4 separate regions of the Homo sapiens genome follow, and regions 1, 2 and 3 are each reported to be linked to region 4. Evidence: microRNA targets listed by miRTarBase, many of them from high-throughput screens and not tested one by one. Region 4 holds a microRNA gene; each other region holds the end of a gene's coding sequence.
What was found. The annotated mature microRNA hsa-miR-5684 reads AACUCUAGCCUGAGCAACAG and lies in region 4 at 2,738-2,757, shown strand. An mRNA with a match to its seed (bases 2 to 7 or 8) in the 3' UTR can be bound and repressed. Matches are read on the target gene's strand: a 7mer-m8 pairs with bases 2 to 8, a 7mer-A1 pairs with bases 2 to 7 and ends in A, and an 8mer does both.

Region 1 (6,989 bases), not on the chromosome of region 4:
GCAGCAGAGGCTGCAGAACAGTGGATATTGGTGAACAACAAATGTTGCTGCCCGATCATTCCTGTGGAAGTTTTGTCTCAGAGGAGTACCTGGCCATGTGAGGTGTCAGTCTGCCCCTGCTGGTGGGTGCCTCCCAGTTAGGCTACTTAGGGGTCACAGACCCACTTGAGGAGTCAGTCTGTCCATTCTCAGATCTCCAGCTGCGTGCTGGGAGAACCACTACTCTCTTCAAAGCTGTCAGACAGGGACATTTAAGTCTACAGAGGATTCTGCTGCCTTTTGTTTGGCAATGCCCTGCCCCCAGAAATGGAGTCTGCAGAGGCAGGCAGGCCTCCTTGAGCTGCAGTGGGCTCCACCCAGTTCCAGCTTCCTGGCTGCTTTGTTTACCTACTCAAGCCTCAACAATGGCAGGCGCCCCTCCCCCAGCCTTGCTGCCGCCTTGCAGTTTGATCTCAGACTGCTGTGCTAGCAATGAGTGAGGCTCCGTGGGCATAGGACCTTTTGAGCCAGACACGAGATATAATCTCCTGGTGTGCCATTTGCTAAGACTGTTGGAAAAGTGCAGTATTAGGGTGGGAGTGACCGGATTTTACAGGTGCCATCTGTCACCCCTTTCTTTGACTAGGAAAGGGAATTCCCTGACTCCTTGCACTTCCCAGGAGAGGCAATGCCTCACGCTGCTTTGGCTCATGCTCGGTGCACTGCACCCACTGTCTTACACCCACTTTCTGACACTCCCCAGTGAGAAGAACCTGGTACCTCAGTTGGAAATGCAGAAATCACCCGTCTTCTGCACCGCTCAGGCTGGGAGCTGTAGACTGGAGCTGTTCCTATTCGGCCATCTTGGCTCAACCCCCTAGTTAATTTTTGTGTCTTTAATAGAGACAGGGTTTCATCATATTGGCCAGAGTCGTCTTGAACTCCTGACTGAAGTGATCCACCCACCTCAGTCTCTGCAAGTGCTGGGATTACAGATGTGAGCCACTGTGCCTGGTCAATTGCTGGACGTTCATGATACACCTGGAGTATCCACAGTATCACAAGGGCCATTTTTTTCCATAATCCAATTTATTTATATTATTGGTAGTGAGCTAATGTTGATGTCCCCAAGGTAGCAATTTAGTGACTATACCCATGATAAACGTTTCCATGCATCACGTGGTCAACAGCATTTGCTACCAAGTGCCACGTTCCATGCTCAGCAGTGGGAACACAGGATGATGGAGACAAAGTTCCTGACCTTTAGCAGCAATATCGAACAAGTGAGATTGTCAAGAAAGAAGAAATCATTGTAAAACATACCATACCCCTACAATTCCGTAATCATGCTCCTGGATATTTAATGAAGTGAGTAAACCCACACCTGGATGTTTACAGCAACTTACTCATAATCGCCAAAACTTGGAAGCTAGCAAGTTGCCCTTCGGTCAGTGACTGGATAAGCAAACTGATCCATCCAGTCAGTGAACTATTATAAAGCTGTAAAAAGACATGAAAAATTCCTAAATGCACGTTATTGTACAAGTGAAAGAAGGCAATCTGAAAAGACTCATCCTGTTAGACATTCCAGAAAAAGCTTTTGCATTTTTCTAAGGAGACAGTAGAAAGCCCAGTGGATGCAAGGGGTTGGGAGCACAATGGGATGAATGGGAAGAGGACAGAGGAATTTTAGGGAAAGAAAACTACTCTCCATGATGCTCTAATGGTGGATACATGTCATTATCCCTTTGTTAAAATCCATAGAATGTACAAAACCAGCAATGATCCCTCATGTGAACTATGGACATTGGGTGATAATGATGTGTCCCTGTGGCTCATTGGTTGTGATGAATGCTCTGTGCTGGTGTGGGTGCTGATCCTGTGGGGGTGCTGTGTATTGAAGGGGGAAGAAGGTAGATGAGAACTCTGCAGTTTCTGCTTAGTTTTTCTGTGAATCTAAAACTGCTGTAAAGGAAAAAATAGGCTGGGTGTGGTGGCTCACGTCTATAGTCATAGCATTTTGGGAAGCCGAGGCAGGTGGATCACCTGAGATCAGGGGTTCCAGACCAGCCTAGCTAAAATGACAAAACCCTGTCTCTACTAAAAACTGATAATAATAATAATACAAAAATTAATCAGGTGTGGTGTTGCATGCCTGTAATCCCAGCTACTCTGGAGGCTGAGACAGGAGCATTGCTGGAATCCTGGAGGCAGAAGTTGCAGTGAACAGAGATCGTACCTCTGCACTCCAGCACGGATGACAGAAGGAGACTCCATCTCCAAAATAAATAAATAAATAAACTCAAGGCTGGGTGCGGTGGCTCATGCCTATAGGAACTCACTCCCAGCAATTTAGGAGGCCGAGGCAGGTGGATCGCTTGAGCCCAGAATTTCAAGACCAGTCTGGGCAACATGGTGAAGCCTGGTCTTCACTAAGAATACAAAAATAAGTCAGGCATGATGGTGCATGCCTGTTGTTCCAGCTACTAGGGGGACTGAGGCAGGGAGATCACCTGAGCCTAGGAGGTCAAGGCTGCAGTAAGCCGTGATCATGCCACTGCACTCCAATCTGGACAACAGAGTGAGACTTTGTCTCCAAATAAAATAAAATAAAATAAAATAAAATAAACTCAATATTTTTTAAAACTGTAATGTTTCCTTTCAAAGCTAAAATTGTATTATTCTAAATATATTTTAAAGAAGAAATGATTATTGTTCAGTGTCTTTAAAATTAGTTTTTAAAATCTCATTTGTTTTGACATTTCAAACCAAGTTAAGTATTCTTTTTCTCACCCTCCTTGAGACGGAGTCTTCCTCTTTCACCCAGGCTGGAGTGCAGTGGTGCATTCTTGGCTCACTGCAACCTTTGCCTCGCAGGTTCAAGCGATTCTCTTGCCTCAGCCTCCTGACTATCTGGGATTACAGGCACCTGTCACCACGCCAGGCTAATTTTTTGTATTTTTCGTAGAGACGGGGTTTCATCATGTTGGCCAGGCTGGTCTGGAACTCCTGACCTCGTGATCTGCCCACCTCGGCCTCCCAAAGTGCCAGGAATACAGGCATGAACCACCACACCTGGCCATTAACCATTCTTGAAATATCACGTTGCATTCTTTAAAAGTTCTAATCTTTCATATACATAAATTACAACACAAATATTTATACTCTAATAGTATTCACATTATAGTAAATTTTTTTTCATGCTCTGTCGCCCAGGCTGGAGTGAAGTGGTGCCATCTCGTCTCATTGCAACCCTCACCTCCCGGGTTCAAGTGATTGTCCTGCCTCAGCCTCCTGAATACCTGGGATTACAGGCGAATGCCACCACTCCCAGCAAATTTTGTGTATTTTTAGTAGAGATGGGGTTTCACCATGTTGGCCAGGCTGGTCTCAAAATCCTGAGGCTGCCTTGGCCTCCCAAAGTGCTGGGATTAGAGGTGTGAGACACCATGCCCGGCCATAATAATAAATCTTATTTTATCTTTTTTTTTGAGACGGAGTTTTGCTAGGGTTGCCCAGGCTGGAGTGCAATGGCTCAGTCTGAGCTCACCGCAACCTCCACCTCCAGGTTCAAATGATTCTCCCGCCTCAGCCTATCGAGTAGCTGCAATTACAGACGTGCGCCACCACGCCTGGCTAATTTTTTGTATTTTAAGTAGAGAAGGGTTTTCTTCATGTTGCTCAGGCTGGTCTCAAACTCCCAACCTCAGGTGATCCACCTGCCTCAGCCTCCCAAAGTGCTGGAATTACAGGTATGACTCACTGCACCTGGCTCATAATAGTACATTTTTAAAAACACCATAAAATATAATCCTTGCAACACTCAATTATACCATCTGGTCGGATCTATCAGCAGATGGCACCCGAGACATACGGATTGGAAATTTTGATCTTATTATGAATGAATCCAGTCCAGAAATGCCCACCCTGCCCCCTGCTGGCTCCTGGGGCTCTGCTCTTTGGGGCAATCATGATGAAATTGTGGCAGAGAGTAGAAGTTGAGCCCCATTGCATGCCCTGAGTTCTTGTTGCCTCTCTATTATCAGGAAAAGGAGGTGAGATTGAAAGATGAAAAGTGCTGGGACTTCTGCTGAGAAGAGAAAAAAGAACAAGATGTATTGATCTTACTGTATGCCAGACCCCATGCCAAGCCCTAAACATGAACCATCTCATTGGATCCTACCAAGGTCCCATAAGCTGTTGGACATCATCATCCTCATTTTACAGGAAGCTGAGGCTCTAGGCTAACATCCCTGACAGCAACACCAGCCCCTGAGTACACAGCAGGATCCTTCACTTGGGTGCCCATTATGCAGAATTCCTCAGCACAGGGAAGGTCACTCATCACCCACAGGCCCTTGATCGTTATCCACCCTTTGATGCTGTCAGATTCCAGAACACGCTGCACTAGTCTCTTCCTTCATAGGGAGAGAGGGGAGGTGTTATGAGAAAATCTCTCATCAATCTGACCTAGCTCCCCCAAAAGATGTAACTTTTAAAATGTCAGATGGAAATATTTAAAAAGTGTTATATGCCTGTATAGTTTTAGTATTTTACTTAAAGGGAATGTGGCTGTCTTTACTGGCTACAACCAGTTTAATTCAAGAAGGGCTGCTGGTCATCAGGAGAACAAGCAAGGGTTGATGCTGCCCAGAGTCTCCAGCTAATACACAATATGGACATCCCCTTCCAGGGCAGCGGGAAGAGAGTGGCTCCTTGTGCAGTGAAGCTGACATCCACCAACTAAGGCTTCTGGAAGCATGTGGAGACTCACAGGGAGTGGGCAGGGTCTCAGCATCTGGATAGCGGTGAAAGACCCTGAGAAGAAGGTGCTTTCCGTGTGGATTGGCTCACTGTTCTTGCCCAGCAATGTTCCAGGCCTTTGGTGTCCACCTAGTGTGTATTAACCCACTGAACAGCCACAGAAACTAACAAGGAGTTAACAGACATCTAAAGAAGTGAAGAACTGGAGGAGGCCAAGCCAAGCGTGGTGGTCCACGCCTATACTCCCTGCATTTTGGGAGGCCAAGGCAGGAGAATCACAAGCTCAGGAGTTCCAGATCAGCCTGGGGAAGACAGCGAGGCCTTGTCTCTACTAAAAAGAAGTATCCAGGTGTGGTGGCTCACACAGCTGTAGTCATAGCTACTCAGGAGGCTGAGGTGGGTGGATCGCTTGAACCCCGGAAATTGAGGTTGCAGTGAGGTATGATTGTGCCACTGCACTGTAGCCTGAGTGACAGGAGACCTTTAAAAAACAAACAAACAAAAAAGCCTGACACAGTGGCTCACACCTGTAACCCCAGCACTTTGGTAGGCCTACTTGCATGAATCACCCAAAGTCAGGAGTTTGAGACCAGCCTGACCAACATAGTGAGGAAACCCTGTCTCTACTAAACATACACAAATTAGCTGGGCATGGTGGTGCATGCTTGTAATCCCAGCTACTTGGGAGGCTGAGGCAGAAGAATCATTTAAACCCCAGGTGGAGGTTGCAGTCAGCTCAGATGGCACCATTGCACTCTAAACTCCAGCCTGGGCAACAAGAGTGAAACTCTGTCTCCAATAAAAGAATGGGAGGAAACTGATTACAATAACCAAATTTCATTTAAATGCCTTGATTTTCTTGGGCTGCATCTTATTGATTGGACAACTCAGTCAGTGCCTTTTGTTTTTTCCATCAATAACTGAAGATTCCTGAGGCTTAAACTGGAAAACAGGTTACTTAATAATAGAGGGCACCAGACAGATTCTGCTCAGTTTTCCTTTATTTCTGATTGTTTCTTTACAACCATCCATGCAAGAGTAACTCCCTCATGTATTCTCAAGCCTGAATTCCACTCTAGACATTCAGATTCCCATTTTCGACTCTACAGGACACAGGTCCCCAAAGTCCCATCGAATCCATGGCAACATTTCCCCCAAGTCCGGCCCCTGCTTGATCAGCTTTCCTTTCCCACTTTCAGAGCCTATGTGTGAAATGATGGGTTCTGTGCTCCCTTTAGGATGTACCTAAGACCTAGGTTTTAGTTTCCAAGTGTCCAGAAGAAAGCGTTTGACATACCCATCCAAATAGGCAGGCATTCAACAGCAGTATTGATCTGCCTCCAGGTCATAAAATGACCTGTTGCCACAGTCAGGGCAGTAGTCAGTACAGAACAAGATCCTCTTGGGGTGCCTTAAGTCCCTCACTCTGTTCATCAGCTCAGCCCTAATTTGAGCAAATCTGCTCCAGCAGAGAGTACCATCAGCACCATAACTCTCCCGGGGGGCAGGATACAGCTCCACGCATAAGTTTTTGAGTATGATTGTGTGGCTCAGCAGGTTCTCCAGGGTGGCCATGCAGATGGGATTTCCACAGAAGCTGAAGGTGTTGAGCTCAAAGCAGCGGCTCAGGGCAGGCAAGATGGCGTTGACTTGGGAGTCTATGATGCCACAGTCATCTAAATCCAGGTACTCAAGGGTGGCTGCAACTTTTTCTAGGAGAATTTGGAGAGGCACAAGACTGTAATTGGTCAGTCTGATGCCACTCAGGTCCAGGGTCTTTAGTTGACTGATACTCGGGCACTGGGATAGATGCTTCAAGTCTGATTCCAAAAGCACACAGTTAGTTATTGTGAGGAACTTTAACGAGGTCTTCAGACAGCTGGGGAGAGAGAGCAAGAAGTTAATTCTGGGGAATCATAGGGGTGAGTGGAGGGTGGTGGGGAATGGCTTCAAGGTAATGGATGGAGACCTTTTTGCCCAAGTCCAGGGTCATTCTGATGGCCTGATGGTCAACACTTAGGATGATGTGTGATGAAGAGCTTTGCCACCGAGGTCAATTCCACTTTAGACCCGGCCCAGTAACTCACACCTGTAATCCCAGCACTTTGGGAGGCTGAGACTGGTGGATTCCTTGAGATCAGGAGTTTGAGACCAGCCTGCTGAACATGGCAAAACCTCCTCTCTACTAAAAATCCAAAAATTAGCCAGGTGTGGTGGGGGGAGCCTGCAATTCCAGCTACTTGGGA
Region 2 (7,295 bases), not on the chromosome of region 4:
TTCAAAGATCGTTACTGTAGGCATTACAGGTCTTCCTCCCAAACTGGTGTTTGATGAAGGAGACGTGCCTTTTCCAAACCTGATTAAATACAAGGGGGATTTTGTCTATGTGCAGAATTTAAATGATTCTCATACCGTAAAATTCCCACCTTTCCCAGCTTATGAGGTCGTGGTAACGATAGTGTTAATGATTGCACCGTTTCACTCACACTTTCAGGAGAATCCATGTTTCCAGCTTGCATATGATATATCACAGAGAAGGGTAAGGGCTAAGCATCTTAGAGAGTAGCAGAAATCATAATCTAGATAGAACTGGATGAATCTTTAATGCTGCAGAGCATACCTTGAGTTTTAGAACTGAAACTCTTGAAATAGAACAGTTTCTTTGGCTCTATCCTGGACTACTACCATACTGTATGGGTTTATATCTATCTATCTATCTTTGGTTCTCAAAAAATAGAAAAATAAATGAAGTCCTTTTTAGATGACAATCCATTAAAGAATGAATCACATTAATTAAAATATGATAATATTAAAACCTGATAATCTGACAATCTAAGTTGTATTTCACTACAGAAACAGTATAGAAAATAAATTCTCCATTTTCAGGACTAGGACTATGAAATCTGAAATTCTGGCTGAACATTTTAAGCATCCTTAATTCATTGATTGCCAAGAAGATATTGAGGTGGAAATGATAATATGAACAAAAGAATTAAGATGCAGTCATCTTTGGTTCACAGTATAGAGTCGAATATAAGTTGTTAACTGTCTGAAATAATGTTAACTACTTCTATGATGGATAGTTTCCTTTAAAAAATTATTATTGATGTAAGACTTAAATGGACTTGGTTTGTTATTGGATGGAGAAGCTGGCCTTCTGCATTGAGTATCTCTTAGCAGGAATGCATTCCTTTAGACCAATGTCTTACACATTGGAGGAACCAGTTTGTGGATCCTCACCACTGTTTTGTCATCTGTTCTGTGGAAAACTTTTTAAAAAAGCCAATTTTCAGACTTGTCATTCCAATTATATACTCATCAACACTTAAGAAAAATATTAAAAATCTGTCCAGTATAGCAACAGATGGTAATCTTTTTATTTCCTTTTGAATTAAAAAAAATATTATTAATGTTTATTAGTGTTTTTTGCTCAGTAAACTTTTTTTTTTTGCCAATTATCCATTAATTTCTTTTCATTATCTCTTGTGAAAAAAACAGAGCTGAAATGTGTCTCTGTACCCAATGGAAAACACCCTGACTGCTTTATCACCTTGCTGTTTAAAAACAAAAGCAACTTTTCACAGGCCGACACCTTTATTCAAGGATTATAAAAGAGAACAGAGAAATCTCTTTTGTCTTGAAATAGGAAAACTTGATCAAAGAATTAGGTATTGAAGCCTCTCTAGGTAGTGAATGTGTGAATGGGTGAGTGAATGAATCCAACAGCTTGACCTAAGAATGAAGCGTAGCAGGCTCTGAATTTTGTGCTCTCTTTGTTTCTCTGCGCAGAATTTAAGAAGAGGATTACCTCAGGTTCCTTACTTCAGTCTCTATGGAGACCAAGAAGGTGCTTATGAACATCCAGGCTCCAGCCTTTTCCCTGAGGGTCCTAATGACTATGTCTTCAGTCATCTTCCACTCCACTCTCAGCAACAAGTGCGAGCCCCTATCCCCATGGTGCCCGTTGGTGGGATCCAGATGGTTCACTCCATGCCGCCAGCCCTTTCCAGTTTACATCCTTCACCCACATTGCCCCTGCCAATGGAGGGCTTTGAGGAGAAGAAAGGCGCGTCAGGGGAGTCCTTCTCCAAGGACCCCTATGTGCTTTCTAAGCAGCATGAGAAGCGAGGTCCTCACGCTTTGCAGTCATCTGGTCCACCTAGCACTCCCTCCTCTCCTCGGCTGTTGATGAAACAGAGCACTTCGGAAGACAGCCTAAACGCAACAGAGCGGGAACAGGAGGAAAATATACAGACTTGTACAAAAGCCATTGCCTCTCTCCGGATTGCCACGGAAGAGGCAGCTCTGCTCGGGCCAGATCAGCCAGCGCGGGTGCAGGAGCCCCACCAGAACCCCCTGGGAAGTGCACATGTTAGCATTAGACACTTTAGTAGACCTGAGCCAGGTCAGCCCTGTACCTCAGCCACCCACCCTGACTTGCATGATGGTGAAAAGGACAATTTTGGTACATCACAGACTCCATTAGCTCACTCCACGTTTTACAGCAAGAGTTGTGTGGATGACAAGCAGTTGGACTTTCACAGCAGCAAGGAATTATCTTCAAGCACAGAGGAAAGCAAAGATCCTTCATCAGAAAAGAGTCAGCTACATTGATCTATGATGCATGGAGACTTTCATTTCCACATTTTCCCATTTTTTTGTTTTTGTTTTTCTAGAAATGGAGGTAATCCAGTTTATAGCATGCCTGTCCTAAGTTACAGTAGTTTGCTATTATATATACTTTTGTTATATCAAAAGAATTAGGTAAATTAACAAGTCATCATGAGCCTGACCAAAACAAAATTTGAAATTAACCTATTGGGTCTGGTACTTTTAAAATTGTACAGATGTTTGTGCCTTTTCTTTACTTTGCTTATATTCTTATAAGCATTTTTTAGCAGTAATTTGTACATATTTTAGAATTTGTGTATCTGCTTTGTAATAAATGTAATTTCTTTCCTTTTTTGGACACTTGGATCTAAATGATGTAAAGCAAAACAGCATCAATATATATGTGAGGTTGCACTAAAACATATTTTTATATGATTAAAACTGAACAGCTTTTATGTACAGCTCTGATTCTGTAATACTAATATTTATTTACTTTGTTTCATAAATTGTACATTTTTTCTTAATGTTGTGGATTGCTTTTCTATGTGAAGCATGGGATTTACTGTTGCGTAACTAGAACAAAAATGTACATTGTAAACAAGATATTTAAACTAGAGTATCTTATTCTGCACTTATGCATTAGTTAAAAAAAGATAAAGGATGTATCAGTCAGTTCTTAACTCTTGTATATTTTTTTGTCTCTTGTTTGCTGGATTGACTATAACTTAAGTGCTGATTGTGATTTTAAAATGATAGTACCGTAAAGCATTAAAGTAAACAATGTGCTATTGTGAGTTTTTTCAAAGCTTTATAAATCAGTTATAAATAATATTAAAAGTATTTGGTCTTATGTGAACATGTTGATCTATATACTCATCTAAAAATATGGGAAAACATTCCACCCCATGTAAATATGTACAAGTGCATCACTGGTACAATTTTATGTAACTCAGTTGGACACTAGGTTGCCACAGACCTATGCTAGGTGTCTTTAAAAAATTAAGGTGACAAAGCACATGGGACTGTGTAGAGCTTGGTTATCGGCCGGCCCGGTGGCTTGGCAGGCAGTGCTGTGCGCTGCTCATGGAGAAGACCTGGGCTTAGCAATCTCCTTAGTTCTTGCTACACAGGATGGTGACTGGAACTAAGGCTACACAGAGGGTCGCACTTGGACTCTGAGGGTTGGGTGTGGAAGGGGGAAAAGGAGATGGAGACCTGCTCCCCAGCTCTTCCTGTCAGCCGGTTTACATGGGAACAGGGTTAACATCTGTGTTAGGGGAGGTCACCTTACCCTTTTTCATAGGGGAAGAGTGTCACACTCCTGGCTATCTCAGGGGGAATGGGGAAAAGAATCTTTCAAGGGCAAAGAACTCGTGGGAGGATGTCTGTTGTATGTAATACTCACAATGGCTTTTGGTTAGTGTTGAAGGTGGGAAGAGCATTTGTAGGTCCAGAAGAGTGAAAGAGAGGGAGGGGTGCAGCAACATGTGCACAGGCACGCACATGTGTGCACGCACACATACAATCTGGGTTATCTTTGTGCTATATAGTGGATTATAATTCTGTGAAACCAAGTTTGTATATTGAATTACATTAAGGAGTGTTCTTTAAAAAGAGAAATAAATATACAATTACATGCTTGAGGTGTCTAGTTCTTATGTGTTGCTTTACATTTTAATTTCCCAATTTTGTTTCTAAAGTAATTTTGATACTAGCAACATACCATCTGTGCTTTTAATTGCTAGGCTCTGCCCATCCTGAGTGTGAATGCTTTTAACAAGTGAGAAGACAGTCATTGGCTTCCATAGATTATCTGATTAGAACAGATAGTGGTCACCAAGGTGTGGGCCCTAGGAATAGACTTATCCAAACCTCAGCATGGGCCTGGGCAGCATACGTTGCATCTGAACAGATTCATGAATAAAGCAAATTATCATTTTTCCTCTGCCTCTCTTGCAGTATGCATACTTATCTGAAATTCCACTGGGGAAACCTCTTCTTTCTTTTTGCTAAGGTGGCTGAAGCTAAGAATCAACTAAAATATATCAGAAGATACCCACAAATCACAGTTCTTTTATTAGAATGAGTAGAATCTTTTTAATAATAAGAGCAGAAGCTCATTAAAAGTCAAAACCTATTAGTATTTTCACTATAAAAATCTCAAATTTGTGGATTTACAATGTACCTATTTGCTTTTATGAGCCAGACTGTCTTTTTAAACTGTGTTTTACAAAGGTGATTTAAAGGTCAACACAGACACTCTAATATCTGTCTCTTACCAAGAAGAATCTTTTGATTATGTAGGGTGATTTGTGTGTCATATTCCTCATTGATGTGTGCGTGCGTGTGTGTGTGTGTGTGTGTGTGTGTGTGTGTGTGTTGGTGATCCCAGGCCAAATCAAATTACTCTGTTTCCTCCTCTACCTAATTCATCACTCATTTATTCAGTCATTCATTCATTCATAAAAGTTATTGAGTGCCAACTATGAACTGGGTACGATAGTGGGCATTTATTTTTATTTTTATTTATTTATTTATTTATTTATTTATTTATTTATTTGAGAGTCTTACTGCAGGCCAGGCTGGAGTGCAGTGGTGCTATCTCAGCTCACTGCAACCTCCGCCTCCCAGGTTCAAGTGATTCTCCCATCTCAGCATCCTGAGTAGCTGGGTCTACACGTGCATGCCACCATGGCTAATTTTTGCATTTTTAGTAGAGACAGGGTTTCACCATGTTGGCCAGGCTTGTCTCAAACACCTGGCCTCAAGTGATCTGCCTGCCTCAGTCTCCCAAAGTGCTGGGGTTACAGGTGTGAACCTAATGCTCCCAGCCTGGTGGTGGGCATTTAGAATTAATAAAGAGTATCCGTGCCACCAAGGAGCTCAAGTAAATAGGAAAGACATATATGTAAGTAAATGTGGATAATATGATGTTTGAGCTAAAATAGTTGCACATTTGGTTTTATAACCATAAAGGGAGAGAGAAATCATCCTGGAGAGAGCAATCATCCTGCTGAGAATGAAGAAAAGCTTCATCACAGAGGTAGCCTTAGAACAGATCCTTGAAACAATAAATTGACTAATTCATTCAACGTAGCTTTTCATCACCTACATTGGAGTACTCTTGTGTGTGCTAGGTGTCCAATATGGCACAAAACAGATAAAGTCCTTGCCTTAATGGAGTTTATATTCTAGAGGAGAGGGCAATATAAAAAATTAGTGGGAAAACGCATATTAGATCTGATCTGAGATGTGTAAAGCAATTAATGTGTAAAAAGCAAGATGTAGCTGGCACCCTAGGTATGTGGCAAGGTAGTACATGGTTAAGCTAGAAACACATATCAAAGTCCAATTTCCTAATCCAGCCTACAGGTCTGGCCCTGTAAGCAATGGAGAACCAAGGAAGGATTGAAGCAATAAAGTGGCCTTGCTAATTGTTGTCGTTATCATTATTTTGGGAAAAATAAAATACTGTGGCACCAGCGAAGATAAGGGAAATAAAAGCAGCAACAATCCAAACAAATGATGGAGACCTGGAGAAAGAAGGGACAGTTTTGCTTAATGAAGAGGAATGGCTGATAGCTAGACTGATTTGGTGCTGGGATGAAAGAGATGGAGAAGTTAAAGATGATGAGTTTTTAACCTGGACAATAGAATGAGGGTGGCATTATTCAGCCACAAAAGAGAGTGGATTTGTACAGAATGCTGGTAAAGAGATGAGCTTTCCTTAGCAGTTCTGAAGGAGTTCAACCTCAAACAAGAGAGGCCAGAGCTGGAGACTGGTTTGTCAGTTCTTGTTTTTCATCATAGCTGAGAGCACTGAATTGGATGAAATTCCTCAGGGTATATAAAGGGGTAGAAGAGGAAGTTTGAGGGTTTCCAAAGGTAGACAAAGAACATAGGGGCGAGCAAAGGTATACTTCACAGGACAGCACATCTCATCTGCTGAGCCTTAATGATACAAAATTGTTTAATATTTTTGAGAACTTGATTTTCAATATATTCCCCAAGATAATTTCTAGAAAACAAAACTTTTAGAACATCATTTTCTGAGAAAAAATCAACTGCATTTGTGGAATTATTTACTATTAGTTACTATTTCCTTAGTAGCATAATAGTAGCTTCATTATTAAATAATAAATTAGAGGTTATTAAATTAACCTGTCATTTACAAATATCTTTTCCAAAACCTGTAGTCTAGAGAAGTTAGGTGAAGTTTTCAAGGAGAAATAGGTGGTTCATTACAGAATCAAGGCTAAAAATGAGCTCCCACCTCTTTGTCCAGGTTTGCTTAAAGAACAGTTTCTCATTATTTATGCTCTTCTCACTTAGATCAAGATTACAATCACAATAATGTACTGTGAAAGTTGTTGGGTTGAATGGGCTCAGAATCATACAAAAACAACAAAGCTTATTTCTGCCCTGGAAATGGTCTTTATTAGTTTAAAATATATTACTAAATATGGTGGCATCGACTTTGCCACAGTACAGTTTTTTTTCCCAGGGGCAATTTGACATTATACAGAGCATCAGCTCCCATTAATTTCCGAGTGTAGAGAAACATATGCTTACCCAGACTTTATATGCAACAATAAACCAGCTTGGCTATGCAGTAGTACTGAAGAACAGGGAAAGTGGTGGAAATTATTCTACTTGGCACCGAACAGTACCTAAAGAGTAACAAGAAGAAGACACAAACTCTATTTTCTAGAATTCTCTAGATGGATCATTTTATGCATACATATCCATTGCTTATCAACAACTAAGGCCACCTTCAGAAATATACATTTGACAGGATGTATTGACTTGTGCCTGTAATTCCAGCTACTTGGGAGGCTGATCTAGGAGGATTGCTTGAAGCCAGGATTTCAAGACTAGAAATACATGTTGGTTATCAAAATGAATCATATCAACAGATTTTCTCTCCATTCACTAAGTGCCTATAAATGTATTTCAGATTC
Region 3 (7,295 bases), not on the chromosome of region 4:
CCTCCTCATGTGGGGACAGACTGAGCTCCTTGTGGGTGGGTCTTTAAACTTCCCCAGAGGCATCCTCCTCTTGTTGCTGTGCCTTGGCCATTTACCTTCTCTCTGGTTTATTAAATTCTCCAGTCCTCCCTGAAGAGAAATGGGCTGAAAAACAGAGTTCTGTTTTCATGCTTTCTTTTCTTTCCCAGTTCTTCCGGAACTTCAGACAGATTCAGCCGAATACTCAAGCACATCTTGACCCAGAGGAGGTGAGCTTGCCGCTGGGACCCCTGACTGTGGAGAGAGTGCCTTGGGGTCATGGAGCTATGACAAGCATGACTGTAAGAGCCTTCACCAGGCTACCAGCAGGGAACTTTACCCTGTGATGACAAGCCTGCATTCTGCCCCACACACACAGAGAAAAAGTCGGTCTGTGGATGCCAGCAGCACGAAAGCCAGTACCTAGGGGGACTCTGTCTGAGAAGGGGGCCCCCCGGTCAGCTAGTGCTGACAATTTCTCTCTGTCTCTGTAGCTACTACCCACTCTACCCGCCCCAAGAAGACATGGCCATTGACTATGAGTCGTTCTATGTTTACGCACAGCTGCCTGTCACCCCAGATGTCCTCATCATCCCGTCAGAGCTGAGGTACTTCGTGAAGGTAGGTTTGAACTCTGCTTTTTCCCAGAAACACCAGAACCCAGTCTTTGACTTTCCCTTCTAGACCACCCGGCACTCACCCCTCATGGGTCAGCTGATGGGGATGGGGCCTCTAGCACCCTGCCCTGTGGCCTTGTTTCTTTGGGGAGGTGGTGGGACCAGAAAACAAACAACTCTGTCAGTAAAATGCTTGAGTAAACAGTGTCCTCTCCTCCCTCCCCAAGAGAACGAGAGCCCAGATGACTAGGAAGGCCCTCAAATGAGGGCTTTCACCAGGCCACATAGAGGTGACCTGGGGAAGATTTCATATGTACACTTGCCTGTCCTCTGCCTCCCAAATTCTGATATGACCTCCAAGTGGGCTCAGCTGGGAATACCTTGAAGAAGCTATTGGGTCATTTTGATCTCTGCCACCCTTTAGCCCTGCCTGCCTTGGAGTTAGGTCCCTTACAAGGAATCTGCCTAGACCAGTCCCCCTCTTGCCAAACAAGAGTTAGTTCAATCTCAAGAGGTTAAAAAAAAGTTTTTCACATGAGAAAGCAGTAAACAGCTAGATCAGGTTTGTCTCCAAGTTTAGGAGCTGATTGTCATTCTGCCAAGTCACCTCATTCTTCTGTTTGAAAGACTTAAAAGGAATTCAAAGCTTTCTAGTGACAAGTTAACATATGTGACTGAGGCCGGGCGCAGTGGTTGACAATTGTAATCCCAGCACTTTGGGAGGCCGAGGTGGGTGGATCACCTGAGGTCAGGAGTCTGAGACCAGCCTGGCCAACATGGTAAAACCCCATCTCTACTAAAAATACAAAAATTAGCCAGGCATGGTGGTGTGGGTGCCTGTAATCCAAGCTACCTGGGAGCCTGAGGCAGGAGAATCGCTGGAACCCGGGAGGTCGAGGCTGCAGTGAGCTGAGATCTCACCACTGCACTCCAGCCTGGGCAACAGAGCGAGACTCCATCTCAAAAAAAAAAAAAAAAAAAGTGACTGAAAATGTGTCTGGTGATTTGGTTGCCTTCGTTTCCATTTTCTAAAACCCTCTTTGGGGTCCAGCCATGTGATGGCACTTCTTTTTCACATTGGTTCCCAGTTAGTTGAGGCTCTCCAAACCTGTCACCTCTCCTCTCCTCCCCAGGATGTCCTCGGCTGTGTCTGTGTGAACCCTGGGCGCCTTACCAAAGGGCAGGTGGGAGGCACCTTCGCCCGACTCTACCTTAGGAGGCCGGCAGCGGACGGGGCAGAGAGGCAGAGCCCATGCATTGCTGTGCAGGTCGTCAGGATCTGAGGCTTCTGTCCTCTGCTGTTCTCTGCTGTGTGGGCCCTTAAAGTCTTAGCCAAGAGCCAAGACATAGCCCTGTGACAAGGTGAACAGTTGGGTGGGAAAGGAGAGAGGAGCCAGCCAGGGAGGGGCAGCTGCAGTGACCAGGCCCAGCAGGGAGGACTTGTGCAGCCGGGCCTGCCTCTGAGTGGTGCCTCTCCTGGAAGGAAGCTCTTGCTTCTCAGTCCATGCTCCGTGTCCAGAAGTAAGCCAGCTGTGGATCCCGCCCACTCAGAAAAGGCGAGAAGGCTTTGTGATTTTCTACATGAATCAAACACAGAAACAACTTTTGGAGAAATTAAATTCTGAGTGTGACTTCTGAGTTTGACCTTTCTTCTATTTTCTTTTATTTATTTATTTTGTTTTTAGACGGAGTCTCGATCTGTCGCCCAGGCTGGAGTGCAGTGGTGAGATCTCGGCTCACTGCAAGCTCTGCCGCCCGGGTTCATGCCATTCTCCTGCCTCAGCCTCCTGAGTAGCTGGGACTACAGGCACCCACCACCACGCCTGGCTAATTTTTTGTATTTTTAGTGGAGATGGGGTTTCACCATGTTAGCCAGGATGGTCTCGATCTCCTGACCTTGTGATCTGTCCGCCTCAGCCTCCCAAAGTGCTGGGATTACAGGCGTGAGCCACCGCGCCCGGCCCCTTTCTTCTATTTTCTTTATCCTGGTAGTAGACAAAGAATGTTGCCTATTTGACCTATGTCCAGAGAAGGCAGAGTGTCAGTCACACTGGGTTTCTATCCAGCCCCAGTCCTGTCCAGTGGGTAACTCTCAGCCCCACTCCTCATCCCCCAAAGGCCCCAGTGACCTCTATGCTGCAGAGGTGCACTGGGTGGGCCCTAGAGCTGGGCTGCAGAGCAAGCAACTGGCTGCATGCCTGGGCCTCCCTGCGCAGTTCCTCACATGCATGCTGTGGTCCCAGCCTGACCTCTCCATCTGGAGGGGGCCGCCTCGCTGGGCTGTTCCAAAGCTGGAGTCCTGGTGGCAGCTGCTTTGCCAAGTCGCGCAGTAGCCAGGGCTTGCCTGCAGCCCAGAACACTCAGACAGGGTCAGGCCTTCCAGGGTTCACAGCACGTCCCATGCCCCTATGTCCTGGCATCTGGGGAAAAGCTGTCACTGGCCAGACGTGGAGTGGCTTCCTGCCCTAAGCTGGCAGGCTGTCCTGCCTCACATGCCAGAGCCAAGACCGGCAAACCCCAGCTGTCAGGGCAGGGAAGTGGGCAAGGGGGCAGCAAGCTGCTGGTGTCTATGCCTTGACTCCGAGATAAATAGATGACCTAACAGTGGCCAACTTTTGCCTCTCACCTTTCTGACGGTGAAATGGAATCGAGCCCCAGACCTGACCAGGGTACAGTAAAAGGTCTTCCTTTAAACACAAGGAGCAGCTGTTTTATTTCATTAGTTTTATAGGCACCTCCTCTGAGGCCAAGAATTAGAAACTCATCCCTGCGTGGGGAGTGGATTTTTCCGTTCTCCCCCAGCTCCTCCACACATGAAGCAGCCAGCTGTGTTCCACGGGGGCACCATGACTTGTCAGCCTCCGGATGTGGAATTTTGGGAGCCCAGGCAATGGTTGCCTGGATACCAGTCGTGTGACTGTTGGAAATGATCTGGGAGGGCCGGGAGGGCCGGAGCAGGCATTTAAGAGTCAGACAAAGAGAAAGCGGGATGCTAACACCAGAGCAGACAGGTCTGGCAGGCGTGCCTCTGCCACCAGACAGTTCCTTTTTGCTCTTGTCAGGAAGGTGCCAAGTGACTGCTGGCTGACCGTCCCTAGACCCCACTTCAGCTGTGTCACCAGTTTCCCCAGGCATCTGTCATCCCAGGTATTCTCAAGCAGGCTCTGGGGGCGTGTCAGTGACGGAGGGTGGGAGGGTGCCCAGGAGGTCAGGCCCGTCTGCCTCAGCCCCCTTTGGTGGCCTCTCCCTGATCTGGTCATGGCCCCTGCCCTTGAGACACCAACTAGACGGTCCTGAAGAAATAGTCCCGAGCTCTTGCCAGGATTTGCCTCCCATGCCCATGCCCTTGCCCTGCCTCTGCCCTGGCAGAAGGAGCCGCCCTCCCTTACCCGCCTCGTGGCTTCCCTTTAGGGTTCCAGTCTCTGAGAGGGAGAGGGAGAGCTGCTGAGGGAACAGAAGCCACTCCTAGTTGCTGTTCCTGGGAACCCAAGTGGGTGCCAAGAATGCAGCGAGGGAATTAGGGCCTCGAGGGGCACCCAAGGTTGGGGGCCGGCAGGGCCATGGCGCGGATCCTCCATCCAGCTCTGCCTTCTGCAGCCACTGGGGCTTGGGGTTTCCTTTCCTTTGACCTCAGGGCACCCGGCCCAGCTCAACCTGGCCTTGCTGCTTCACTACTGCTGGGAGTAGCCATCTGCGCTGATTTCTCACTCCACCAACCCCACCCCGACAGAGTCTCACTCTGTCGTCCGGGCTGGAGTGCAGTGGCGCGATCTCGGCTCACTGCAACCTCCACCTCCCAGGTTCAAGCGATTCTCCTGCCTCAACCTCCCGAGTAGCTGAGATTACAGGCGCCTGCCACCACGCCCAGCTAATTTTTGTATTTTCAGTAGAGACGGGGTTTCGCCATCTTGGCCAGACTGGTCTCAAACTCCTGACCTCAAGTGATCCACCCGCCTCAGCATCCTAGAGTGCTGGGATTACAGGCGTGAGCCACCATGCCCATTTTAAAGTGTATGATTCAGTGGTTTTTAGTATGTTCATGGTGTTGTGCAGGCCTCGCCACCATCTAATTCCAGAGTATTTTCATCACCCCAAAGGAAACCCTGCACCCATTAGCAGTCTAATCCCATCCCCTGGCAATCATTAATCTAATTTCTTTTCTGTAGATTTGCCTATTTTGGGCATTTTGTATAAATGGAATCATACAATACATCCTCTTTTTTTTTGAGACAGAGTTTTGCTCTTGTCACCCAGGCTGGAGTGCAGTAGCGCAATCTCGGCTCACTGCAACCTCTGCCTCCCGGGTTCGATGGATTATCCTGCCTCAGCCTCCTGAGTAGCTGGGATTACAGGTGCCTGCCACCACACCTGGCTGATTTTTATATTTTTAGTAAAGACAGGGTTTTGCCATATTGGCCAGGCTGGTCTCAAACTCCTGACCTCAGGGTTCAGCCTCCTGAGTAGCTGAGATTACAGGTGTGTCTAGAACTCCTGACCTCAGGTGATCCACTCGCCTCGGCCTCCCAAAGTGTTGGGATTACAGGCATGAGACACCGTGCCTGGCCCATGCTCTTTTCTGTCAGGTTTTGTTTGTTTGTTTTTTTGTTTGTTTCTGAGACAGAGTCTCACTCTGTCACTCAGGCTGGAGTGCAGTGGCACGATCTCTGCTCACTGCAACCTCCACCTTCCGGGTTCAAACGATTCTCCTGCCTCAGCCTCCTGTGTAGCTGGGATTACAGGCACCCGCCACCGTGCCAACTGATTTTTGTATTTTTAGTAGAGACAGGGTTTCACCATGTTGCCCAGGCTGGTCTCGAACCACTGACCTCAAGTGATCCGCCCACCTCGGCTTCCCAGAGTGTTGGGATTACAGGCGTAAGCCACTGCACCCGGCCTGTCAGGTTTGTTTCACTTAGCATGATGTTTTCAAGGTTTGTCCCTGCAGCAGCATGTATCAGTCCGCCATTCTTTTTTATGGCTAAGATCCCACTGTATGGCTATACGGTATTTTATCAGTGCATCCACTGTCGGGTTTTTCCCCTTGTGGACTATTATGAATAGTGGACGCTTGTGTGCAAGCTTTGTGTGAACACCTGTTTTCAGTTCTCTTGGGTATGTTCCTAGGAATGGGGAGGGGCTTTAGATTTACGAAGGAAGACAAGGCAAAGAGAGGGAGGGAGGAGGGACAGAGGGCGAGAGAGGGGTAAAAGAAAAGAGGGAAAGGGAAGGGAGGCAGTGATGGGCCCGGAATGGTGCTTCAGAGCCAGATTGTGAAGTCTTGCTAAGGCATTTGGACCTGATTCTTTCTGCCCCAGAGAATCTTGGAAGGGTTTGCCTCCCACCCCCTGTGCCTCACCCTGACCACCCAACAAGGACCAACTTAAGAGGAGTCCCAGGTGCAGCCTCAGTACCTGGTAGCATGTAGCAAAGGGGTGGTTTGAGGGGAGAGGGGCTCAGGGGAGGGGCCTGGGTCTGTTGGGGCAGGTCGGGAGGAAGAGGGGCACCAAGTGGGCCATTGGAATACTGGAAGCAGCACTCCAGTGAGACATGGGCGTTGGAGGGGTAGATGTGGGAGTCACTGCAGTCAAAAGCCACAGAACTGGGTGCTGGGAGGGTGGCCGAGAGATGGATGGGCAACATCCGCACCATGGAGAGGACTCTGGCCAGCACTTGCACTTAGCATCACTGATCAACAAGGCAAAAGGGTGGGACTGGCCTGGGGGCAGGGGAGGGAAGAGGGATGGCAACAGAGAGGTGCTGGGATTTCTGGCTAAAGAGACCAGAAGACACCCATGGTTGTTCATGGCAAGACTCCCAGCTGCATTCAGGCATTTGGGACCTTCTGTCACCGTCATTGGTCATTCTGGGTCTTCAGTCCCCAAGCGACCATGCCTACTGCTGCTTTCGTGGGTCAGCCCTGGAAATGCCCAGGGGCCTAGGGGCTGGCCTGCCCTCAGACCCAGCTGGACTGCCGCTGGCTCTGAATTCCTCCATCCTGCCCCGCCTCTTCCCGGGGCTCTAGGCTCCTCCCCACCCAGAGCCTGCCTGACAGCTGAGGCCCTGCAGCTGCCCAGGCAAAGGGGCCCCTGGGAGGTCTCAGGGACAGCTGCTGCCCATAACCTTGCTGACCCTGGCCCCTGCACACTGCTCCCTGAGATCCCAGGCTTCTGCCCAGCAGCCAGCAGGACCCTACCAAGCCCCATCTTCTCTGCTCACTCCCATCGCTCCCAGATCTTCCCAGGGGCTGAAGCATTTTGGGCTGAGCATTTTCGTGCTGAGTCAGCAGGCCCCACCCAAAGAGTGAGAAAAGCTGCTGGGTAGAGGCACCCCTAGCCCCGCTCCTGCTTCAGAGGAAGTGCCTTTCAGGGGTGGATGAGGGGTACACCTGCCTCCGTCAGGCAGGCTTGGCCCTGTTCAACAGGGTGGGGACCCTGCCCTCCCACCACCTGCCTCCTACCACAGAACAGGGCACAAGGGTGGCACAAGGGGAAAAAGGAGAAGGCACCATCACTCCTGATTCCCAGCGAATAGGGGGAAAAGGCATACTCACTCCTGATTCCTGGCAGCTTCTTCCCTTGAAGGTCCACTTTCCTCCTGAGGACTCGAGGCCCCTTCAAATTGCCCCTTAGAATGTTTCTAGTAATAGTAGTTGCCTCTGGG
Region 4 (7,295 bases):
ACAGACCAGACCCTCAAGCAAGAGACACACACCGTCAAACACATGAACGCATCCACTGGTCAAAAATACGCAGGCAGGCCGTGTGCGGCGGGGATAAATCAACCCAGCACATAAGCATGATAGACACAAACACACAGAGACTGACATTCAGGTGAGAGGCACACAGCAAGGCAGACACAATGGCGTGTGACACACATGGAGACAAACACAATAGGCTAGAAACATAGGGGCAAGACAGACACAGAGTGAACTATATGTGAGACAAGCAGGCAACATGTGCATGCTGATAGGAGAGACAGTCACTTTCAGCACCAGCACCCCGAGAGCCACACGAGAGATATGCAGACACAGGCATGCACTATCAGATCCTGACACGCAAGAGAAGGCAACACACACACACCCCAGATCTCCAACTCAGAAGATAGAGACAAGACAAGAGAGACAAACCTAGGGACAGAGATGATGTGTTCACAGTATGGCAGAGAGTCCCTGGCACCCTGGCCCACCACTGTTGCACACACATCAGAGATGCTCCCAGGGACACCAAGCCGAAGCCTTAGAGGTACACACCATCTCACCAGGAACACACACATGTGGGACCTGGCAACAGATTGGGTAGATCTGGGCAGACTGACACATTCACAGACATGGTCTGGCCAGACAGTCACACCCAGTGCAGAGAGGCACAGACAGGCCACAGTGGGACATTCATAAACACATCGGCACAGAAAGACCATGACAAAACCTGTTTGCACACACACACATGCACACATACAAACGGAGATCAGTAACAGGCAACATACAGATCAGCCACAGAACACACACATGGAAACAAGCCACAGACCTCACACACAGAGACCACACACACACACCAAACACAAACCAGCCACAGACCTCTTTTTCACACACACACACACACACCAGATCGTATACACACATACATACAGACCAGCCACAGACCTCTTTTTCACACACACACAAATGCACATTACAGATCGTATACACACAGACCAGCCACAGACCTCTTTTACACACACACAAACAGATCATATACACACATACAGACCAGCCACAGACCACACACACAAACACACATACACACCGACACAAGTTAGCCATAGGAACTTTGAAACAACCTACACGTACATACATCTAGACCATGTGCAACCCATCCTATAGAGCTCACACACACACAGAGTGGAACAGAACTCTACACAGATAAGCCCTACATAGACCTTTGCATCCAGGGCTGGGCACAGAAGCGGGCAGAGGGCTACTCCTGTCTCTCAGGCCTGGGTGTCAGGGTTGGACCAGCACACACTCTCACATGCACCCTATAGGCCAGTCACACGCTTGCCCCCTGGACCTTGCCAAGGTTCTGTGGGGGCACTGGACACCCCAGTCTGTCTCTGCCCCACAGAGATCCTGGCACTTCCTCTCTCCAAACATCACCCCCACTTCCCTCCCTCTTTGCTTTTGCCACTTCCCCTAGGAGGCCTAGCTCAGCAGCCTCTGCTCCTGCTGGGGTGGGGGCCTGCTATAAAGAGGTCACCCAGGGTCTTGGTGATGCCCAGGTCCCCCAAGGCTTCACCAGCAGTGGCAGGGATGGAAGCAGCTTCCTGAGAAACTCCCCTCATGCCCAACCATGTCAGCCTGGAGAGAGAGAAAGAGAGAGACTCTCCTTCCTGCTTCCAAGAAAACCTAGCAGCTTCCTCTCCAGGAGAGGGGGCAAAGGACCCCCAAACCACAGAGGTGGGAGAGGGAGGCGGCTGGTAGGCCAGGAGTTCCTGGGGGAGGGCTCCTGCCGGGCCTCAGATCCACACCCAGGGGCAGGGACACGGGAGGGAGGCTGGGTGCTGTGTGCTGCGATTTGTGGGTTCTCGCCCTGGCCTGCCCACTGGCTGACTCACAGGCAGCCCCCAGCCCAGTTTCCTAGTGAGGGCCCCACTGGTCAGTGGGGCCAGCAGGGAGGGGGGTCACCGGGCTATTTATAAGAAGGAGAAGTCCCTCGTGCCAAGACCAAAAGCCCCGAAGACACTTGTGGGTGGGGGTGGGTGAACTTCCTCCTTATCCTGTGCCCTAGGCCCCAGGCCCTGGGGCACTGGGGAAGCCTGCGCAGGGACTTCTTAGCCAGGTGCTGGTCTGGAGCCCAGGGCCTGGGCAGTACCCAGCTGCCAGTCTGGACGCTCAGGCCAGTTGGGGGAGGGGGCTGTTCTCCCACCCTCCTCGTGGGGCCGGCCTGGCGCCAGTGGGGCGGCTTGAGGGGGTGGTGCCCAGGCCACAAGGGTGACACTGGCAGAGGCCTGGAACCGGCTGTACCAGCTTGGCTGGGCCCCCGCCCTCCCTGTCTGGCCCAATCTCCACCCCGTGCTCAAACACCCATGCAGAGTGTTTGGAGGAACCCTACTCCCACATGCTGGCCTGTCCACAGAGACCCGTGCCCCTCTGTCTGTGCCCCACCACATTTCTCCCCCAATTAAAGGAGACCCTCAGTGGGGTGCGGTGGCTCACACCTGTAATCCCAGCACTTTGGGAGGCCCAGGTGGGAGGATCCCTTAGGGCCAGGACTTCCAGACCAGCCTAGGCAACAGAATGAGACCCTGTCTCAATAAAATATAAAAAAATAAAACTTAGCAGTTGTGGTGTGCTTGTAGTCCCAGTTACTCTGGAGGCTGAGGCAGGAGGATCGCTTTTACCCAGGAGTTCAGGGCTGCAGCGAGCTATGATTGTGTAGCTGAACTCTAGCCTGAGCAACAGAGTGAGATGGTCTTGTTTTGTTGCCCAGGCTGGAGTCCAGTGTCAAGATCATGGCTCATGTGATCCTCCTGCCTCAGCCTTCGGAGTAGCTGGAACTACAGGCACACCCTCCTGACCTCAGCTAATTTTTAAATTTTTTTGTAGAGATGGGGGTCTTGCTGTGTTCCCCAGGCTGGTCTCAAAAATTTCTGGGCTAGGGCTGGGCGAGGTAGATCATGCCTGTAATCCCAGCACTTTGGGAGGCTGAGGCGGGCAGATAACTTCAGGTCAGGAGTTCGAGACCGGCTTGGCCAACATGGTGAAACCCCATCTCTACTAAAAATACAAAAAATTAGCCTGGCGTGGTGGCATGCGCCTGTAATCCCAACTATTCGGGAGGCTGAGGCAGAAGAATAGCTTGAACCTGGGAGGTGGAGGTTGTAGTGAGCTGATATTGTGCCACTGCACTCCACCCTGGGCGACAGAGTGATATTTTGTCTCAAAAAAACAAAACAAAACAAACAATAAAAAAAAACTCCTGGGCTCAAGTGATCCTCCCCCTCGGCCTCCCAAAGTGCTGAGATTATAGACGTGAGCCACTGTGTTTGGCCAAAGTGAGGTTCTCTTTAAAAAAACAAAAAAAGGGCCGGGCATGGTGGCCCACGCCTGTAATCTCAGTACTTTGGGAGACTCAGGCGGGCTGATCACAAGGTCAGGAGTTCGAGACCAGCCTGACCAATATGGTGAAACCCCGTCTGTACTAAAAATACAAAAATTAGCTGGGCATGGTGGCATGCGCCTGTAATCCCAGCTACTCAGGAGGCTGAGGCAGGAGAATCGCTTGAACCCAGGAGGCGGAGGTTGCAGTGAGCCAACATCATGCCATTGCACTCCAGCCTGGGCGACAGAGCAAGACTCCATCTCAAAAAACAAACAAACAAACAAACAAACAAAACACCAAAAAAAGAGGCCCTTCATGAGACGGCCTGCAGCTGGTACTGCATACATGCTTCTCTGGTTGTCATTATTCACAACACAGTGGCTAATGCTCTGAAGCCAGACAGCTTGGATTATATCTCAACTCTAGTGCTTCTAGCTGTTGGACACCAGACAAGTTCCTTAATCTCCTGTGGCTCAGTTTCTCATCTGTTACATGGGGATACAAATAACATGCATTTTGCTGGATTGTTGGAAGCAGTCGATGACTTATTTTATGTTAACCACTTAGAAGAGTGCCTAGCCCACAGTAAGAGCCATGTAAGTGTTGGCTATTAAAATAATAATTATTATTTCTCAGCCTATCTATCTTAAGTGTTTCTGAGTCTCACTGTCTGCGTGACACTAACCTTGAACCCATTTGTCTCTCTGGGCATCTCTCCCTGCCCTGCGCCCCTGCCCCCATACACCCACTGTTCCTTGCCCTCCTCCTGGGATGGACTCTGTCTGGGATGGCCTCACCTCTCTCTAGGACTCCCTCTGGCATGGCCAGCCTCAGCCCTGGCCAGGGCTGAATTACTGTGGCCTCCTGGCTTTTGGGACCTGCAAGTTAGCTTCCCAAGGTGCTGCCCTCTGGCCTGCCCTGCCCTGCCCAACCCCCCAACGCTGCCCGCTGCGCCCCCGCGGGGCCCAGCCAGATGTCAGCTGCAGTTATTAGCCTGGGCGGGAGACACAGGCCTGGCAGTGTGCCTGCCAGACTCACAGGCCTCCGGAATCTCCCTTGAGCCTGGGGAGGGGGAGGGGAGCCATTCAAGCAAGGGGAAGAAGGGAGGGGGCATTTAGGGGTCACAGGGACCCTCCAAGGACGGGACGCCCCCAGCTTCTGCTGGGACCTTCCTCCAGCAAGGCCACTGCACTGCTGGACTTCCCCCTGCCCCCACATAGCTCAGTTTCTTTTTCGCCTCTTTCGTTTTCCTTCTCTTTCCCACACTTGGTGAGATCTAGGCTGCCCCGGAATGGCTGTTTAACCCCTATCCCTTAGCCTCTTTCTACCCTAAAGAAGAGAGAGGCTCTCTTCATCCTCCAGAAGACAGAGGCCTGGGAAGCTGAGAGAGAGAGAGAGAGACAAAGAGAGAGAGAGAGAGACAGAGACAGAGACAGAGACACTAGGCTTCTCACCTCTTGGTCTAGTGGGTTCACACACTAACTGCTCGGAAGTCCCACCTTAAGTCTAACTGGAAGCCTGACCGTCTGCACCTCGCCGCAGCCCTTCCCGGGAAGGGGCTCTGGGTTCCCTCATATTCTCCCCTTAGATTTTCAGGTCTTCTCTGACTCGGGGAGGGAAGCTCTCAGATGACAGAGCTACTCTAGGGAAGGAGGGGGGCTCCCTCTAGGTATTCTGGATGATAGTAGGATGGGACCTGCAGACTAAAACGAGAGTGGGGCCCCTGACTCACATGAGTGAGTGGGGGGTGTTGGGGACGGAGCTCCAGATCTCCTGGCAGAAGGGAAGGGCACCCCACCCGAGGGAGGAGGCAGCCGCCGTTCCAGCCCGCCCAGGCGCCGGGGGCGCCTCGAGGCATCGGCCCGCCCTCTCCGCGCCCCGTCGGGCCGGGGGCGAAGTCCGACCCAGGCCCGCGGGCAGGCGGGGACCTGCCGGGCTGGGTTGGGCCAGGCCGGGCCTGGCAGGACGCAGCCCCAAAGCGGCGGGGTGGGGCGGGGCCGGGCCAGGCGGCCGTGGGGGCCCCGGGGGCGGCGGTCGGGGCTGGTCGGGACTAGCAGTCTGGGGGCCCAGGCGCGCCCTGGGACCTGGCAGATAGTCGGGTTCCCCGCTTCTGGCTCGGGGCCCCAGGACAGCGCTGGTCCCACCTCTTCCTGTGCCCTAATATGGGCGGCGGGGAGAGACTTCGGGGGCCGGCCCGCGCTCAGTCCTGCCCGCGGACTCCCGCCTGTTGCCATGGCGACCAGGCCCCGCTCCTCGGCTGCGTCCCCCGCCGTCGGGCCAATGGAACACTCCCCAAGCCGCCTGCCTCCGCGGTCCCCTGCAGGCACCGCGGGCGGAACCATTGCTTGAGGGGAGAGGATGGTGGCTGGAGGCTGCCGCGGCTGGGCGGGCTCCAAGCACCCGGGCCTCCGCGGGGGCTCGCACGCCCAGGTTCCTCTTCCGAGGCGCAGGATGCGGCGGGACCCAGGGCGGGGCGCACGGTCCCGTAGGATCCGAGTGACGGAGACAGGGCCGGGCTCCTTCCCCCGGGGCTGTTGCCACACTTCCTGCCTCTGCGCTCTTTCCCCAGCCTGTTTCTAAGGAAGGGAGTGGGGTTGGGCGACCGCGCCCCAGCCGTCGGGCTGGGTCCAGGCTCTAGGAGCCGACACGGTGTTGGGCAAAGCCCAGGGTCAATAGGGGAGGGTTTTAGGATGGGGGACAGAGAATACAGATGACTAAGAGGTTACCATCGAGGGGGAGCAGCAGTCGTGGAAGATCCAGCAGTCCTGGTGCGCGGGACCCTCAAGGCCCCCTCCTCACATGTCAACTGAGTACCCTCTTATTGTCTTCTCTGCTCCGAAGATGTGTCCGGCCCCTTCTAACTCTCTCCTTCATCCGGGCTAGCAGATGACCCCAGTGGTCCCCAATTTCTGGCAGACATGTCTCCATCTTCTACCTGGCATATTTTACCTGCCTCAGTGTACCCCAGGCCGCTTACTAGCTTTCTGCATATCTAGACTTCCCCTAATGCCTCCTTCCCGCTTACGGGAGAGCCTCAGACTCTGGACTCAGCTCCCATGAGCTCCTGGACCCCTACTCATTTCTTGCAATTTAATGGGTCATGCAGCTCCACCCACTCACCCCTTTTGATCTCTCCCCTCCTCCGTCCTGTGAAAATTCCAGTCCCGCATCCTTCTGAGCCCGGGACCCCCAGTCAATTCCTGGGTCAGGTGTCTCCTTAACCCTCCCGATTTACAGTGCTTAACCCTCATTTCTGCTTTTTGGGGTCTCCCAATGGATTGTCAGTCCTCCTACCCCTCTCGTATTCTGGGTACCTCAGGGGTTTCTTCGCACATACTGGGACCCTCACCCCACTTGCTGCGTACCAGGTCCTGGTATTTGTCCCAGTGGACTCCAGGGAAATCATCCTCCTCCCTGAAACCCCTCACTCATGTGCCTGGGCCCCCCAGCACCTCCTTCCATGCGTACCCCGAGGTCCTTTGAGCCCCTCCCCCTGCAGCCCCGCCGAGCCACCCGGCCCGTGGCCGCTGTTTACAAGGACACGCGCTTCCTGACAGTGACGCGAGCCGCCTCCTCCCCTTCCCCACGCTCGAGGAGGGGGGCGCGGGGGCCCGGCTCCGGCGACGGCCAATCGGAGCGCACTTCCGTGGCTGACTAGCGCGGTATAAAGGCGTGTGGCTCAGGCTGAGCGGCTGGGACCTTGAGAGCGGCCAGGCCAGCCTCGGAGCCAGCAGGGAGCTGGGAGCTGGGGGAAACGACGCCAGGAAAGCTATCGCGCCAGAGAGGGCGACGGGGGCTCGGGAAGCCTGACAGGGCTTTTGCGCACAGCTGCCGGCTGGCTGCTACCCGCCCGCGCCAGCCCCCGAGAACGCGCGACCAGGCACCCAGTCCGGTCACC

Region 1: miRTarBase lists PRAMEF4 as a target of hsa-miR-5684. Seed matches in the 3' UTR shown: 7mer-m8 at 5,816-5,822.
Region 2: the mRNA of HIVEP2 is a reported target of hsa-miR-5684. Seed matches in the 3' UTR shown: 8mer at 2,946-2,953.
Region 3: miRTarBase lists POLA2 as a target of hsa-miR-5684. The part of its 3' UTR that is shown has no 7-base or 8-base seed match.

Annotation. Positions count from the first base shown.
Region 1 is chr1:12,873,484-12,880,472 of GRCh38, forward strand. PRAMEF4 (PRAME family member 4) reads right to left here. Exons shown (of 4, transcript NM_001009611.4): 4 at 5,729-6,622. The coding sequence ends at 6,061. Among named protein-coding and RNA genes, the nearest start is that of PRAMEF4, 9.2 kb to the right of the region's middle.
Region 2 is chr6:142,748,149-142,755,443 of GRCh38, reverse strand. It overlaps HIVEP2 (HIVEP zinc finger 2), which reads left to right. Exons shown (of 10, transcript NM_006734.4): 10 at 1,513-3,975. The coding sequence ends at 2,337. Among named protein-coding and RNA genes, the nearest start is that of HIVEP2, 190 kb to the left of the region's middle.
Region 3 is chr11:65,295,352-65,302,646 of GRCh38, forward strand. It overlaps POLA2 (DNA polymerase alpha 2, accessory subunit), which reads left to right. Exons shown (of 18, transcript NM_002689.4): 16 at 189-248; 17 at 513-639; 18 at 1,769-3,334. The coding sequence ends at 1,918. It overlaps LOC105369344 (a long non-coding RNA gene), which reads right to left. Exons shown (of 3, transcript XR_007062727.1): 3 at 1-273. Among named protein-coding and RNA genes, the nearest start is that of CDC42EP2, 16 kb to the right of the region's middle. RefSeq lists enhancers at 5,954-6,491, 6,492-7,028.
Region 4 is chr19:12,784,395-12,791,689 of GRCh38, forward strand. MIR5684 (microRNA 5684) reads left to right here and starts at 2,734; the gene lies at 2,734-2,798. JUNB (JunB proto-oncogene, AP-1 transcription factor subunit) reads left to right here and starts at 7,092. Exons shown (of 1, transcript NM_002229.3): 1 at 7,092-7,295. It also overlaps a transcript of HOOK2 not described here. RefSeq lists cis regulatory regions at 57-577, 5,437-5,957, 6,797-7,295, enhancers at 757-876, 4,181-4,750, 5,655-6,154, 6,455-7,066 and silencers at 5,201-5,970, 6,831-7,295.